4 linked regions of the Homo sapiens genome follow. The protein of the gene in region 4 purifies or fractionates together with the protein of the main gene of each other region. This does not show direct contact. Each region holds a gene or a part of one and is shown on either strand. Other genes may lie near its edges.

Region 1 (3,500 bases), on a different chromosome or scaffold from region 4:
TTTGTTTACTTTCTAAAGCCTAGGAAGGCAGGCAGACTGAATTATTGGCAAATAATTCATTTCTAATACCAAGGATATTTGGGAAACATATATTTCTATTTTCTTTCTTTGATAAATTACATTGAACCATGTAAGATGGGCCTCTCAGAAGCTGTCTGAGAAAGTTAGCTATGGATTTTTTTTTTGGCAGATGTAGAAATAACTGGGGTGTGGGGAATTCCCAGCAAAACCAGTAATGCCATCCTATCTACTGACCAGAAAGAGCTTCCATGCTCACCCTTGTCTGACCAATGTTAGCGTTAACAATTCTCAGCAAAAAAGAACAATTCTCACTCTCACAATGCTGACACTGCCACAGCTCTTTAGTTTAAAAATGAATAATTCAAGACTGCAGTGAAAATCATTATCAGGGGAGGAAAGGAGGCATCATTGCTTGTAAACAGTAGGTTATAAAAATACAGTGGTGTTTTAATATAGCACAAGGCAATTCTCTTTGTTACCTTCTGTCCCAGAACAAGGCTCTTAGAAGACAGAATGGTGAATCCATCCCCTGGCCCATCTTCAGAGGTGGAATTTGAAGTTCCTTCTTTATCGCTGTCCTTTGGTTTGGACTGTCGGTAAAAATCAAAAGGCAAGATGAGAACCAATCCAGAAAAAGCCTGAGGTGCCTTTATTAAGCTCTTCTCACGGCTGCCACCAAGTTGAATATGAAAGGAAGTGGTTAGGTGATGTGTTCTGCTGTTTCTTGAAGGAGGGGAGCAAAAGTCAGCAATATAAGGAAAGAAAAGGGTACCGCAAAATAGCAAAATAGAAAGTGTGTTAAAGGGCTCACACATACCTGCAGTCCTCACCTACCCCTGTGCACCAGCACATTGTCCTTGCTCATTTCAATGCCTGCAGCTCACGACGACAAGCATCGGAGCTGGGTGGGGCCGTTGATAGCCCATTGCTTAGCCTTCTTTCTCCCCAGGATTTCTCGGGGCACAGAGGCAGTGTGGAATGAAACATCCACAACTTCTACAGTAGGGTTGTCCAATAGAACTTTCTGTGATCGTGGAAATATTCATCTTGATCCTCAATAATGTTGCTGAGTGCTTGAAATGTGGCTGGTACAATCAAGGAGCTGAATTTTAAATTTGATTTAGTTTTAATTCAAATCCAAATAGCCTTGGCTTGTGTGCCTTAGCTCACACTTATAATTCCAATGCTTTGGGAGGCTGAGGCAGGAGGGTCGCTTGAGCCCAGGAGTTTGAGGCTACAGTGAGCTATGATCTCGCCACTGCATTACTGTACTCCAGCCTGGGTGACAGAGTGAGACCCCTGTCTCTTAAAAAAAAAAAGCCACATGTGACCAGTGGTTACTGTACTGGGCAACATAGGAAAACATTATTCTATCAGTGGCATCTCTGAGCTAAGCTACCTAGTATATCAAGCTAACCCAAACACCTAGTATATCAAGTATATGCCAAACACCTGAAATTCCACTGGCGGAACTCAGGGAATGCCTGCAGGAGACTAGAGGCTGTTTGGAAGGCAACACAGAGCTCTGCAGAGAAATAAAATGCAGGTTCCTGGCTATCATCGCTCACTTCAGATTTTGCTGGGGGTAGTAAAAGGGATCTGAAAACCATCCCTGCTTAGGGTTTGGAAACCTAGAGAAGACCCATTTCAGCTCTAACCTCAAAGGCCCTTTATTCTTTTACCTGTACATTCTTGTCATTTTCTTCCGGCACCAAGCTGCAAGAGTCCTCGGTCCTTCAGAGGTGTCTGCTACGAAGTCATTGTCTCATCTTTAAACTTCCCTCCTGTTCTGTGAGCGTCTTAGTGTCTGCCTGGGCTGCTCTAACAAAATGCTATAGACTGGCTGGCTCACAAACAACAGAAACCACTTTCTTTTTTTTTTGTTTGTTTAAGAGACAGGGTCTTGCGCTGTCACCGAGGCTCGAGTGCAGTGGTGCCATCATGGCTCACTGCAGCCTCTAACTCCTAGGCTCAAGCCATCCTCCTGCCTCGGCCTCCCAAAGTGTTGGGATTACAGGCATGAGCCACTGTGCCTGGCCCAGAAACTTGTTTCTCATAGTTCCGGAGGCAGGAAGTCCTTGGCGCAGGCAGGTTCTGTGTCTGGCAAGGGCTCACTTCCTGGTAGATGACGCTTTCTAGCTGTGTCCTCACATGGCAGAAGGGTCCCTCTGCCTCCCTCAGGCCTCTTTTATAAGGGGACTGTTCCCATTCGTGAGGACTCGCCCTCATGATCTAGTTATCTCTCAAAGCCCACACCTTGTAATCCTATGCCTCTGGGGTTAGGTTTCAACATATGAATTGTGGGGGAACACAGACATTCAGACCATTGCAGTGGGAGTGCCTGGCCCAGGACACGCAGCCTCGGCCTACCTTTTTGGACGTCCGTGGTTTGGCAGCCTTGGATTTCTTCCCCCCCTTCTTGCCTGACGTGGCCTTCCTGCCTCTTTTCTCTGGGGGTGGGGAGAGGATCGTTTCCGACTTGCCTTTGGTCCCTCGCTTTTTGGCCAGCAGTTCGGGGTGAATTCTGGGCAGGACGCCTCCACTGGCGATGGTCACTCCTTTTAGCAGCTGAAGAGAGAAATGCATGCGCTCATGTAGCAAACAGCCTGCTAGTTCCCAATTTCATACAGTTCTTTTTTTTTTTTTTTTTTGATACAGAATCTTACTCTGTCACCCAGGCTGGAGTGCAGTGGCGCGATCTTGGCTCACTGCAGCCTCCGCCTCCAGGTTCAAGCAATTCTCTTACCTCAGCCTCCTGAGCAGCTGGGATTACAGGCACCTGCCACCACCCCGGCTAATTTTTGTATTTTTAGTAGAGACAGGGTTTCACCACGTTGGCCAGGCTGGTCTCGAACGGCTGACCTCAGGTGATCCACCTGCCTTGGCCTCCCAAAGTGCTGGGATTACAGGCGTGGGCCACTGTGCCTGGCCTGGACTTAATACGGTTCTAACTGTTAAATGTGGCCTCCGCTTTCCTAAAGAAACTGCGTAATACACCATTTAATTGGCTTTTCCCACTTTCAGTTGTAGAGCATTTCTCCGTAGGTTAACAAGGCATCCTGTGATGTTGTACAGAAAGCAAAACGAAGTAAAGCAAAATAGAAGGGACACAGAAGTTGAAACCAGGGATGTTGCCCAGGGCTCTGGAATTCCAGACACAACACAGGATAAAAAGCTTCCCATGTGGGGAGCGCAGCTTGAGAAAATGATGTTCAAAGGTCATTGCAAAGACTAGACCCAGTTAATGATGAACCAGTGGTCTCCACAAGCTTGCACATACATTCCATCAGTAAAGTATGTCTGGCCATGCTCCTCCCAATCAATATAAGTTAATTTATCTGCAAAGAACAGACACGTACTACTCCACTAATATATTCTGCAGATTCGAAACCAACACTACCCCAAGCATGGTCTGCGACCATGGCTCACCCATGAACTGGTAGTTACCCGTCAGTGACAACAGAAGTATAGCAAGCATC
Region 2 (3,444 bases), on a different chromosome or scaffold from region 4:
GCCAGCTGCCAACCTTGAAATACAAATTAAACATTTAAGTTGGCATAATGAACATTTCCAGGAAGGGCAGTGGCTAATAATCTGTAGGACAAGGCTACCAGGTTTACTATGGCTCCTCTTCAAATGACAATGACAAAGATTTGAAGTAATAAGGCCAGAAAAGCCTTTTCATTTCCAAAATCATCTTTCCTGGAAGACTTGGAAGTTCAAACTTCACTACGTGAGATTTCACTGCTCTCATATCAAGCCGACTGACCTCCATAGCTCAAGAGACTACCTGTTAGCTGATCCCCTAAAGCATGGAGGATCGATTCAGGAAGGGGGATCTATTCAGGAAGAGATCTATGCATCAGGGTTAGCTGTATGAGAAGTATGAGAAAATCTGCTTATATTATTTTTGGCTACAGACAGGTGTTTCCAATTTCTCATGTTTAGTCTTAAATGCATCCAAGTTTGTGTGTGTGTGTGTTGGGGGTGGAGGGAAGAACCAGATACACTTATTTTCAAACAAAAGCTGCCACATGTTTATTAAGACATTACTGGCTCTTAAGCACAGCTGGATCTATAAATCATTTTCCATATATTATCACATATTCAGGAAAGTTTCTGAGATGATATATCAAGACAGGCTTCTCTTGTGACTCAACTGGACCTGAGGAAAGAACAAAAGAAATTACATACCTGATTTATAGCTGCTGGTCATCAACAGACACGTACTGGCAATGTAATCTTTTGAGACAGGAGAGCTAAACTGCTTTCCCCTCCTTGCTAAAGCTTTGCCCAAAATGCCTGTACCTTTAAAAATCCTTTGTCCTAATTAAATCTATCTGCATTCTCAAAGTCCCTCAACATTCATTAATCTCTGAGGAGACCAAACAGTCAACTGTGATGAAGAGGCCAATTGCAAAGCTCAATCTCAGAACCACCACATCTCAGGCCTGAAAGGACACCATGAGAAGGGAAGGATGTTCTATGGTTTTAAATATTGGGCAGCAGAACTAATGGCCAGCCCCATTATCTAGCTCTGTGAAACAGAGCAAGCTGCTAATCTCTCAAGAAACATATATATAATAAGAGGATTCAAGCTCATACAAGCTATAGCTATATCTGAAGACCCATCTCTCTGTGTTATTAAGTCTTTTGTGGATTAAACATGTTCAGTAATTACAATTTTGATGAGAATTATTGAATGCAACATTAGAGATCAGACCTCAGAAGAACCGAGCCAGATTGCTGTGATTTGGGATAAGAAAGGAGGGTCCAACTTCAGCTAGACAGTTCCTGATCTACTTCCAACCCACCCCTCTAAATAAAGATGCAGTAACTTAGGGGTAGAGAAACAAAGCTCAGCTAATGTGCTGCTTCCACCAACTGACAGCAATGGGTGTATCTTAAAACCTGCAGAATTTGTAAGAAAAGGGTTTTCTTACTTCAAATAGTCTCTTTAGAAGTCTGAGTAATGGTGCAACCTGGAAAAGTAAAAAATAAGTCATCTGAACAACTTTGTAATTACCCACAGTGTTTTCAATTAGATCACAGAAGGGCACTTAGGAAGATTTTAGTGGGAAAAATATGTAATCACAATCATTCACACCAGGCAGTTAGGTTCAGACTCCTCAATCTGACATTCTGGAGGATCTGAACGCCTCAGATTTTAGGTAACATGAGTAGGCTTACTCCAAAGTTTCACATGGGGGGTCTATGAAATACCTGATCAGACATAAACAATAAAAATGTCATCAGTCAATTCCAGTCACTGGTATAGCTAGAAACAGTGTCATTCTAAAGAGCAATGCTCTGGTGGAAAATCTAATGGCCTTTGGGTCTTAGAGAAAAAAAAATTTCACTTATAAAAATACCAAAGGATTTGGAAGAAAATTCTAAGTGCAATAAGAATCTGCATCCTTTTATAAAATACAAACTGAAACAGAACCACTCCAAATCTGATCTGAAATGAGACTGATGAAATTATCCTGGTATAACCTGTTTTCCTTTCAAAGTAAGTAGAACTGTAAACCACATTATTGTCTGGTATATTCTCCTTTCACAACTATTTCCTCAAAACCAATTTACATTCCTCCTTTTCTTCACTCCAGATTTTAGTCCGTTTTGAAAGCAGGAATTCCCTAAAGCATACAAACATAAACACAGGGTTCTATGTAGCATTCACTACCAACACAAGGAGCAAGGCAAGAGGGCTGTGATTTACATCACAAGTTTTCTACTGAAAGCTCTTTAGTTCTCCCTAAAGATCCACCTTGTCACCTATATCTTCTAGCAATGATGCAATTAGGTTTTGTTTGTTCCTGTTTTATAGCCAAGTATGTTGGGTACAGAAAAGAACCTGGACAGCGCATATAAGTTTTGGTTATCTTTGTGGTTAACACCCTTATTTACAGCTTACAGCTACAGGGAAAGAAACACCTTTTAAAAAGAAATCAATTAAATCTAGTGGAGTAAACTGAATTATTAAATCAGCAAAAGCTAATCTAAACATAAGGCACGAAGAAAGTGGAAATATTATTAAAGTGGCTTTTTCTCAATTTGACATTCTCAAAATAGTGCTTTCCAAAAAATATATATATTCCCCAGGTGAAGTTTCCTGCTAGTGACATTTTATGGTAGAAAATTACCCAAAGTACTGCCCAAGGTTATTTATAGATTCAATGCCATCCCCATCAAGCTACCAATGACTTTCTTCACAGAATTGGAAAAAACTACTTTAAAGTTCATATGGAACCAAAAAAGAGCCCGCATAGCCAAGTCAATCCTAAGCCAAAAGAACAAAGCTGGAGGCATCATGCTACCTGACTTCAAACTATACTACAAGGCTACAGTAACCAAAACAGCAGGGTACTGGTACCAAAACAGAGATATAGACCAATGGAACAGAACAGAGGCCTCAGAAATAATGCTGCATATCTACAACCATCTGATCTTTGACAAACCTGACAAAAACAAAAAATGGGGAAAGGATTGCCTATTTAATAAATGGTGCTGGGAAAACTGGCTAGCCATATGTAGAAAGCTGAAACTGGGTCCCTTCCTTACACCTTATACAAAAATTAATTCAAGATGGATTAAAGACTTACATGTTAGACCTAAAACCATAAAAACCCTAGAAGAAAACCTAGGCAATACCATTCAGGACATAGGCATGGGCAAGGACTTCATGTCTAAAACACCAAAAGCAATGGCAACAAAAGCCAAAATTGACAAATGGGATCTAATTAAACTAAAGAGTTTCTGCACAGCAAAAGAAACTACCATCAGAGTAAACAGGCAACCTACAAAATGGGAGAAAATTGTCGCAACCTACTCATCTGACAAAGGGCTAATATCCACAATCTACAATGAACTCAAACAAATTTACAAGAAAAAAACAACCCCATCAAAAAGTGGGCGAAGGATATGAACAGACACTTCTCAAAAGAAGACATTTAT
Region 3 (3,500 bases), on a different chromosome or scaffold from region 4:
ATGCCAATTAGACTTTGCTTTTTCCAGAGACAACCACTATGTGGGTTTTCAGTTAACATCTCCTGATTACACTAACTAGCGGGGCTGCTGAATTCTAAATAAAGGTTTAGTGCCTGGTATGAGTATAAGGGAAAGGGACAGCGTTGACAGATGCCTACAAAAAATCTTAGGCATTTGCAGATGACACCCTTGACAGAATAGACATATCAACAAAGTTATACCAAAGGCAAAATTTTAAAAATTCCGGACCTTAAATGTTATCTATAGCAGGCATTTAAAAGGACCACATGGTACCTCAAACACAGGAAGGGAGGATATGCAGAGATGAGAGGAAGGTATGTTGGATAAGCTCTGAAAACGCATTGAAGAGTAAGGGGAAGCTGATTTTATTTGGCTATCTTGTCTGGACAACCAACCTGCTGGTTACCTTACTGGTAAAAATGAAAACTATTGTGCAGAGGGTTTCTGTAAGGATTAATAACACACCCAAACTGAAGGGTATCATCTGCGGAATGCAGAGCTTCATATTGCCTATTTTCATGATCCTTATATAGTTAAGTGAAAACCATCTCCAAATTTCTACGCAATAGTAGTAAAACTTTACCAGGACATTCATGAAATATACATAAAACACAATCAAGACAGTCTCCCCAAGAATTACCAGGATATCCTTCTAAACTGGTCCGCACATTTTCCACAGAAGGATAGATCTAAAAATAAGAGGAAAACAATAAAACTCGGAATGTACCATGTTGAAGAAAAGGAATGATAATCAGCTTTTAAGGAAATGAAAATCTGTTAAAAATACTTTTAAATTAGAAAATATGCTTTAAATTTTTAAAAGTTCTCATCTTATGAAAAAAATGAACTAGTAATTAAACAACAGGAACCATATTTGATGTAAAATTATACTTCAATTGGAGTATTTTTTCCTTTGAAATTCAAGTTAACATTGAATGGAAAATTAATTATTAATTCACAGTTCTCTAAATAATTAAAATGCCCATAATTCTGCTGGCTGTGCTACATCAAATATTTTCTACCTTGGTTCAACAACCTGAAAGAAAGGATAGAAAAATCACAGGCCAGTCTGTGTCTGCAATGGAGCTCCTGAACGAATCGGCAAGCTCTTAGCACTGGATATTAAGGCAAAGGCAACTTGATTACAAATGACGATGCTAATGTACTGCTCTTTCCGCACCCCGCCCCCGCCACGCCAAAAAAAAAAAAAGAATCACAGAATAAAACATCTCTCCATTACAAAGAGGACCAATTTTCAATTCTTCTCCTGTGTAGAGAATAAAAGTAAACTACCTCAATGAGGACGAGAACTCACCAAGTAAAGAGGAACAGAGCTTTTTCCTGGAGTCTTGCTTTCCTTCCCCAGTGTCAGCATGCTCTCTTTAAACTCAGAACATAACCACTTTGATTCATCGGCTCCCAAGGAGCCAACGCTTGAAAACTGACCTACGACAGGCCAGGACTCTGCGTTAGGCATGGATGAGGCATGGTCTTTCAGAAGCTGGGAAAGAATAAAAGTGAATGTTAAAGTGACTCAAATAATCTTAACAGAAATGCTGCAATATTTGAAAACAGTTTTCTGCTCTTGGAAAGCCTAATTAACAAGAAAAGCTGAAAATACTAGTGATCAATTTCATACCCACACATACATACTTCTTCTTTGGGAAATTTTTTTTAAATACTAAAAACATATTTTTAATGGAGTAGATGGACAGAAGTTCTCCTTTCCAAAATTATTTGATTTGTACTAAAAGCAAAAACAGGTTTAAAAAGGCCCATTTCAGAAGAAATTTCAGATAAACCACCAACTTGTCATATGAAATTAGATTTTTTTTACTTGAAATCACAAGTGTTTAATGCAGCTTTGATGCTATGAAATATGTATTTGGTCTTCATCCCTGTTTCCTGGCATGCAACTACTAAAATCCTTGGGATCTCCAATGTGAAGTCTTTCTGTATGTTAATGAGACTGATGGCTGGCAGACCCTAGGCAACTTCAGGATGGGGGCTGGTCACGATAAAGACCAAGGCATGATTAGAAGATTGGGACTTTTGGCACAACCCCCCATCCTCCAGGGATAGGAGGGGCTAAAGGTTGAGCTGATCAGCAATGGCCAGTGATGTAATCAACCATGCCTATGTAATGAAGCCTCCATTAAAAACCCAAAAGGACAGGGTTTAGGGAGCTTTCCGACAGCTGAACACCTGCGGGCTGCTGGACAGTGGTGGTGCATCCAGAGAGGGCATGAAAGCTCTGTGCCCCTTCCCCTATACCTTGCTCTATGCATCTCTTCATCTGTATCCTTTATAATAAAGCAGTAAATGTTAAGTGTTTCCCTGAGTTCAGCGAGCTGCTCTAGCAAATGAAGCCCAAAGAGAGGGTCATGGGAACCTCAACTTGAAGCTGGTCAGTCAGAAGTTCTGGAGGCCCAGACTTGCAACTGGTGTCTGAGGGAGAGGGGCAGTCTTGTGGGATGGAGCCCTCAATCTATGGGATCTGAGGCTACCCCCATATTTCTTTAAAAAAAATGTATTTTTTCAATTATTTTTTCCCTACTATTCCCCAACTCCTTCCCCACTTCCTACTTAGACCTTTAGAAATACAATATAACCTTTTACCTTTCCTTTACTAGACACTCCCTACAGGGCAAGTTCATCTATGTGCTTAGAAGCTCCAGAGCAGAACTTTCTCCCACCAGGGGACTGCCTCGAGGGACAGCAGTAAATTTACAACCCAAAGTATGCCCACTAAGAAACTCTCCCACCTGGAGAGTTTCAGCCATCTTTACAACCTAGTTCTGCCCAGGAAGAGACCAAATGGACTGCCTGGTAGAGAAGGCAGAAAGTAAGGAAGTATCCACCTGCTTGCTTCCTCCTCTGCGTGCCATTCATGCTAGGCCCCTTTTAAAAGTGTCCACTTTCTGCTCCAAGAGCAAAGCAGTATCCTTAAGACAGGAAGCCTGTACTTATTCCTCTAAGCCAGCTTTGGAATAAAAAATAACTTTTTTTATACCATCACTTTCTTTATATCATCACTTTCTTTAAAGTCACTTTCTTTATACATCTCCAGGAAGACAGCATAAGAACTGAAGTGAATTAGAGGACACCCAGCTGGTGTCCCCTGCTTAGTGTATGAGGAAAACCCCACACATATTTGGTCACAGTTTTCTGTGTTGACTGTTGTAGTGTGAGAGCAGAGGAAACAAAGTGAGTTTTTTGCTACCAACACTTAAACAATACCTAGAAGGATTACATATTTTGACTCCTATCATTTGAAAGAGGCTTAACAGTCATAGTTTAACACTTGAGCTCCAGGCAGCTGTGATGGTCTAAACATAAAAGAGAATATTTACATACACATACCAGCTAAAACACTGCAGAAGACTGATCTGCATTTCCTGCTTTGATAATTATGCAAAGCTGCAGAAACAATTAAGAAAACATTTGGAAACTGTATCCACTTAAATATGTACTGAATG
Region 4 (3,500 bases):
CACTGCTGCCTCAATCTCCCAGGCTCAAGTGAGGTTCCCACCTCAGCCTCCGAGTAGCTGGGATTACAGGCATGTACCACCATGCCTAGCTAATTTTTTTTTTAATTTACTTTTTGTAGAGATGGAGTCCCATTATGTTGTCCAGGCTGATCTTGAATTCCAGGCTCAAGCTGTCCTCCCACCTCAGCCTCCCAAAGTGCTAGGATTACAGGCATGAGCCACCACACCCAGCTGAGATCTGTTTTTATTATGATATACAATTTACTGGAGAGTTGAACTGCTCATGCTGAGATGATTCACATCACACGTTGTCGTAAGCAGATACCTGCAACAGTAAAGCTCACCAAAACAGCAACAAGAAGTGGCTAGAAATTATTACAGAAGTACAGTATGTATTACAGTGAATTTTATGCTTTACATTTGTCTACATATCTCTCAACTGCAAATGGCACTATGTACACTCTGTGTTTGTGTGTGTATGTTTTGATAAATTTTACCTTTTTATAATAGATTTGAGTATATTTTATGGTAGTAAATGATAAAATAGACTACTACCTACATATATTTCATTTATTCATGACATATCTTTTTAATTTTTCAATGTTTTTTAAATATAGAGTTTGTGAGGTTTTTCAAATTGTCACAAATCTCCCAAAAACTTTTCCAATATACTTGTTGAATCTGCATAGAAGTGGACCTATGCCGTTCAAAACCCATGTTGTTCAGGGTTAACTGTATTCACAAAATTGTGCAACCATCACTTCTATTTCCAGGATGTATTCATCACTCCAAAAGGAAACCTCATACCCATTAGGACTTTGGGTTTTAAGTGTGACAGTAAGCCACTGGAAGGTTGTACTGAAAATACTATTCAGAATATTAATAATAAAATTTATAGTATAATATTAATTAAAAATCAGTGGTAACTATTGCACAATATATACACTGAATAAAATATATATACCTATGTACACAGATTAAATACATGAAAGAACTACATTGAATGTTTACAGTGCTTATCTCTTGGTAATTGACTTCGAAGTGCTTATTTTGTCTTCCTGCTTACTTGATTTTGGTGAAATTCCTACTTTTTTTTTTTTTTTTTTTTGAGTCTCACTCTGTTGCCCAGGCTGGAGTGCAATGGCACAATCTCAGCTCATTGCAATCTCTGCCTCCCAGGTTCAAACGATTTTCCTGCCTCCGCCTCCCAAGTAGCTGAGATTACAGGTGTGCACCACCACAGCCGGCTGTTTGTATTTTTGGTACAGACAGGGTTTCACCATGTTGATCAGGCTGGTCTCAAACTCCTGACCTCAGGTGATCTGCCCGTCTCGGCCTCCCAAAGTGCTGGGATTACAGGCGAAAGTCCTACATTTTCTACATTGAGTATATAATCTTGCAAAATTGGGAAAGAGCATAATACACACAAAAAACATTACTTTACACAATACTTCACAATTTACAGTGCTTTCCCAAAAGATTATCTAGTTTGCTGTATCAACAACAGACAAAAATAGACAAATTCAAATTTTCATGGTAGAGAAAAACAGAAAGTCATCTAGTATAGGATTTGAGCCAGTATTATGGTGAAATGCATAAACCTAAAAAAAAAAGCATGGGATCTATTTTAGACATAATTTCATTAGATTATTTCCTTCTACTTTTGTGGAGCAGAGGGTAAGTAAAATATATATATATATATAAAAGACTTAAACTGAATCCAGACTGGTTACTATAAAGAAATCTACAAATCATAAAATTGTCTTATCTAGATATCTTCCCAGTGCCAAGTCCAGCATGCATTCCAGAGCTCAGTCATCTATGCTGAGACTCTGCCATAATATTTGATAAGAGGTCGGTCTTATTCTTCAACAGAGCAAAAGTAGTTGATATAAGATGTTTGACATTATCGTATTTGGAATGTACAAAGTCCAACTTCTGATGTTAAGAAGGGGCAATTATGAAGAAATAGACTTGATTTTGCCCAGAGACTCCCCATAAACACTTCAATTCAGAAATCAAGTTCTCTTTAAAAGGTTAATATATTTGATGTGAAATGTTCTTTGGAACTTGTGAATATGCTTTCCCATAAGAATAATGGTGTAAATGGTAGGTTATCAGGCAACCTCACAAACACCTAATTCACAATACTGATTAATATGCATCACTTTAGATTTTAAAAAGCAAATCCAATGCTTTTTGAGCTCTAATTCAAGGCTGGTGAATTGTTAGCCAATATGATGAAATTGTGCTGACTATCATGATGTCACTGAAATTTCAACTCATCCAACCTGTTTGGCTTGCAATGCTGCTTACATAGTGAATGCTGCACAAGTGTGAGAACATCATCCTCATCATTAATATATGATGACAGAGGCAACATAGTAAGTAAAGACATAAGGAAAGCTTAAGAAGACAAAAGTGGGTTTAAAGCACCACTTGGGACTTTGGAAAATTAATGTGTCTAAGTAGTTATTTTGCTTATTCAGTTCGGTTCAGCAGACATTTCTTAAAGACCTATTCTGTGCCAAGTACTCTACTTAGTGTGTCTAGAAGTAGTTTTTAACTCTGGCTTTGCAATACAATCATCTTCAGAGCTTTTAAAAATACAGATACTACCCAGGCGCGGAGGCTCACGCCTGTAATCTCAACACTTTGGGAGGCTGAGGCAGGCAGATCACCTAAGGTCAGGAGTTCGAGACCAGCCTGATCAACATAGAGAAACCGTGTCTCTATTAAAAATACAAAATCAGCCGGTTGTGGTGGCACATGCCTATAATTCCAGCTACTCAGGAGGCTGAGGCAGGAGAATCTCTTGAACCCAGAAGGCAGAGGTTGTGGTGAGCCAAGATCGCACCATTGAACTCCAGCCTGGGCAACAAGAACAAAACTCCATCTCAAAAAAATACAGATACCCAGACACTACCTACAGAACCAAATTACCAAAGAAAGGAACTCATACAAAAGTATGAAGACATGTGAGAAGATAGCATATTCATGGTAAGTAGTAAATGGGGGATGAAAATTTGAAGGCATTAATTCAGGGGAAGATATATATAATTGTAAAATATAGTCTTTGTCCCTGTTGCCTGGCATAACCACTAAAATCCTCAGAATCTCCCAAGTGATGTCTTTTTGTATGCTAATGAGTTAAGTGACATCTAGCAGCCCCTAGATAGCTTCAGGGTGGGAGCTAGTCACTGGAAAGACCAAGGTATAGAGAATTGGGACTTTCAGCCCCAAGCCCCAGCCTCCTCTAGGGAGACGAGAGGGGCTAAAGGTTAGCTGATCACTAATGCCCAATGGTTTAATCAATCATGACTAAATAACGATGACTCCATAAAAACCCAAAGGGGACAGGGTTAGGAAAGCTTCCAAACAGGTGAACATGTAGAGGTTTCTGGAGGGTGGCACACTTGGTGAGAGCATGGAAGCTCAGTATCCCTTCCCATAGCTTACCCTATGCATCTCCTCATCTGTATCCTTTGTCATATCCCTTA

Evidence for each region. Proteins that work in one complex are often made in the same cells at the same time.
Region 1: the proteins of APLF (region 4) and MACROH2A2 purify together in Homo sapiens (affinity purification with mass spectrometry; 3 studies listed by BioGRID and IntAct, with this or other methods). This does not show direct contact.
Region 2: the proteins of APLF (region 4) and UTP18 purify together in Homo sapiens (co-immunoprecipitation; one large-scale study listed by IntAct). This does not show direct contact.
Region 3: the proteins of APLF (region 4) and TDP1 purify together in Homo sapiens (affinity purification with mass spectrometry; 3 studies listed by BioGRID and IntAct, with this or other methods). This does not show direct contact.

The regions. Positions count from the first base shown.
Region 1 is NC_000010.11:70,090,846-70,094,345, reverse strand, and holds part of MACROH2A2 (core histone macro-H2A.2), read right to left. Parts: intron 2,590-3,500; coding exon 2,392-2,589; intron 612-2,391; coding exon 501-611; intron 1-500. UniProt on the Homo sapiens protein: Variant histone H2A which replaces conventional H2A in a subset of nucleosomes where it represses transcription. Nucleosomes wrap and compact DNA into chromatin, limiting DNA accessibility to the cellular machineries which require DNA as a template.
Region 2 is NC_000017.11:51,294,990-51,298,433, reverse strand, and holds the end of UTP18 (U3 small nucleolar RNA-associated protein 18 homolog), read right to left. Parts: intron 1,470-3,444; coding exon 1,445-1,469; 3' UTR 1,431-1,444; intron 653-1,430; 3' UTR 501-652; downstream 1-500. UniProt on the Homo sapiens protein: Part of the small subunit (SSU) processome, first precursor of the small eukaryotic ribosomal subunit.
Region 3 is NC_000014.9:89,986,927-89,990,426, reverse strand, and holds part of TDP1 (tyrosyl-DNA phosphodiesterase 1), read right to left. Parts: intron 1,523-3,500; coding exon 1,337-1,522; intron 711-1,336; coding exon 662-710; intron 1-661. UniProt on the Homo sapiens protein: DNA repair enzyme that can remove a variety of covalent adducts from DNA through hydrolysis of a 3'-phosphodiester bond, giving rise to DNA with a free 3' phosphate.
Region 4 is NC_000002.12:68,474,085-68,477,584, reverse strand, and holds part of APLF (aprataxin and PNK-like factor), read right to left. Parts: intron 1-3,500. UniProt on the Homo sapiens protein: Histone chaperone involved in single-strand and double-strand DNA break repair.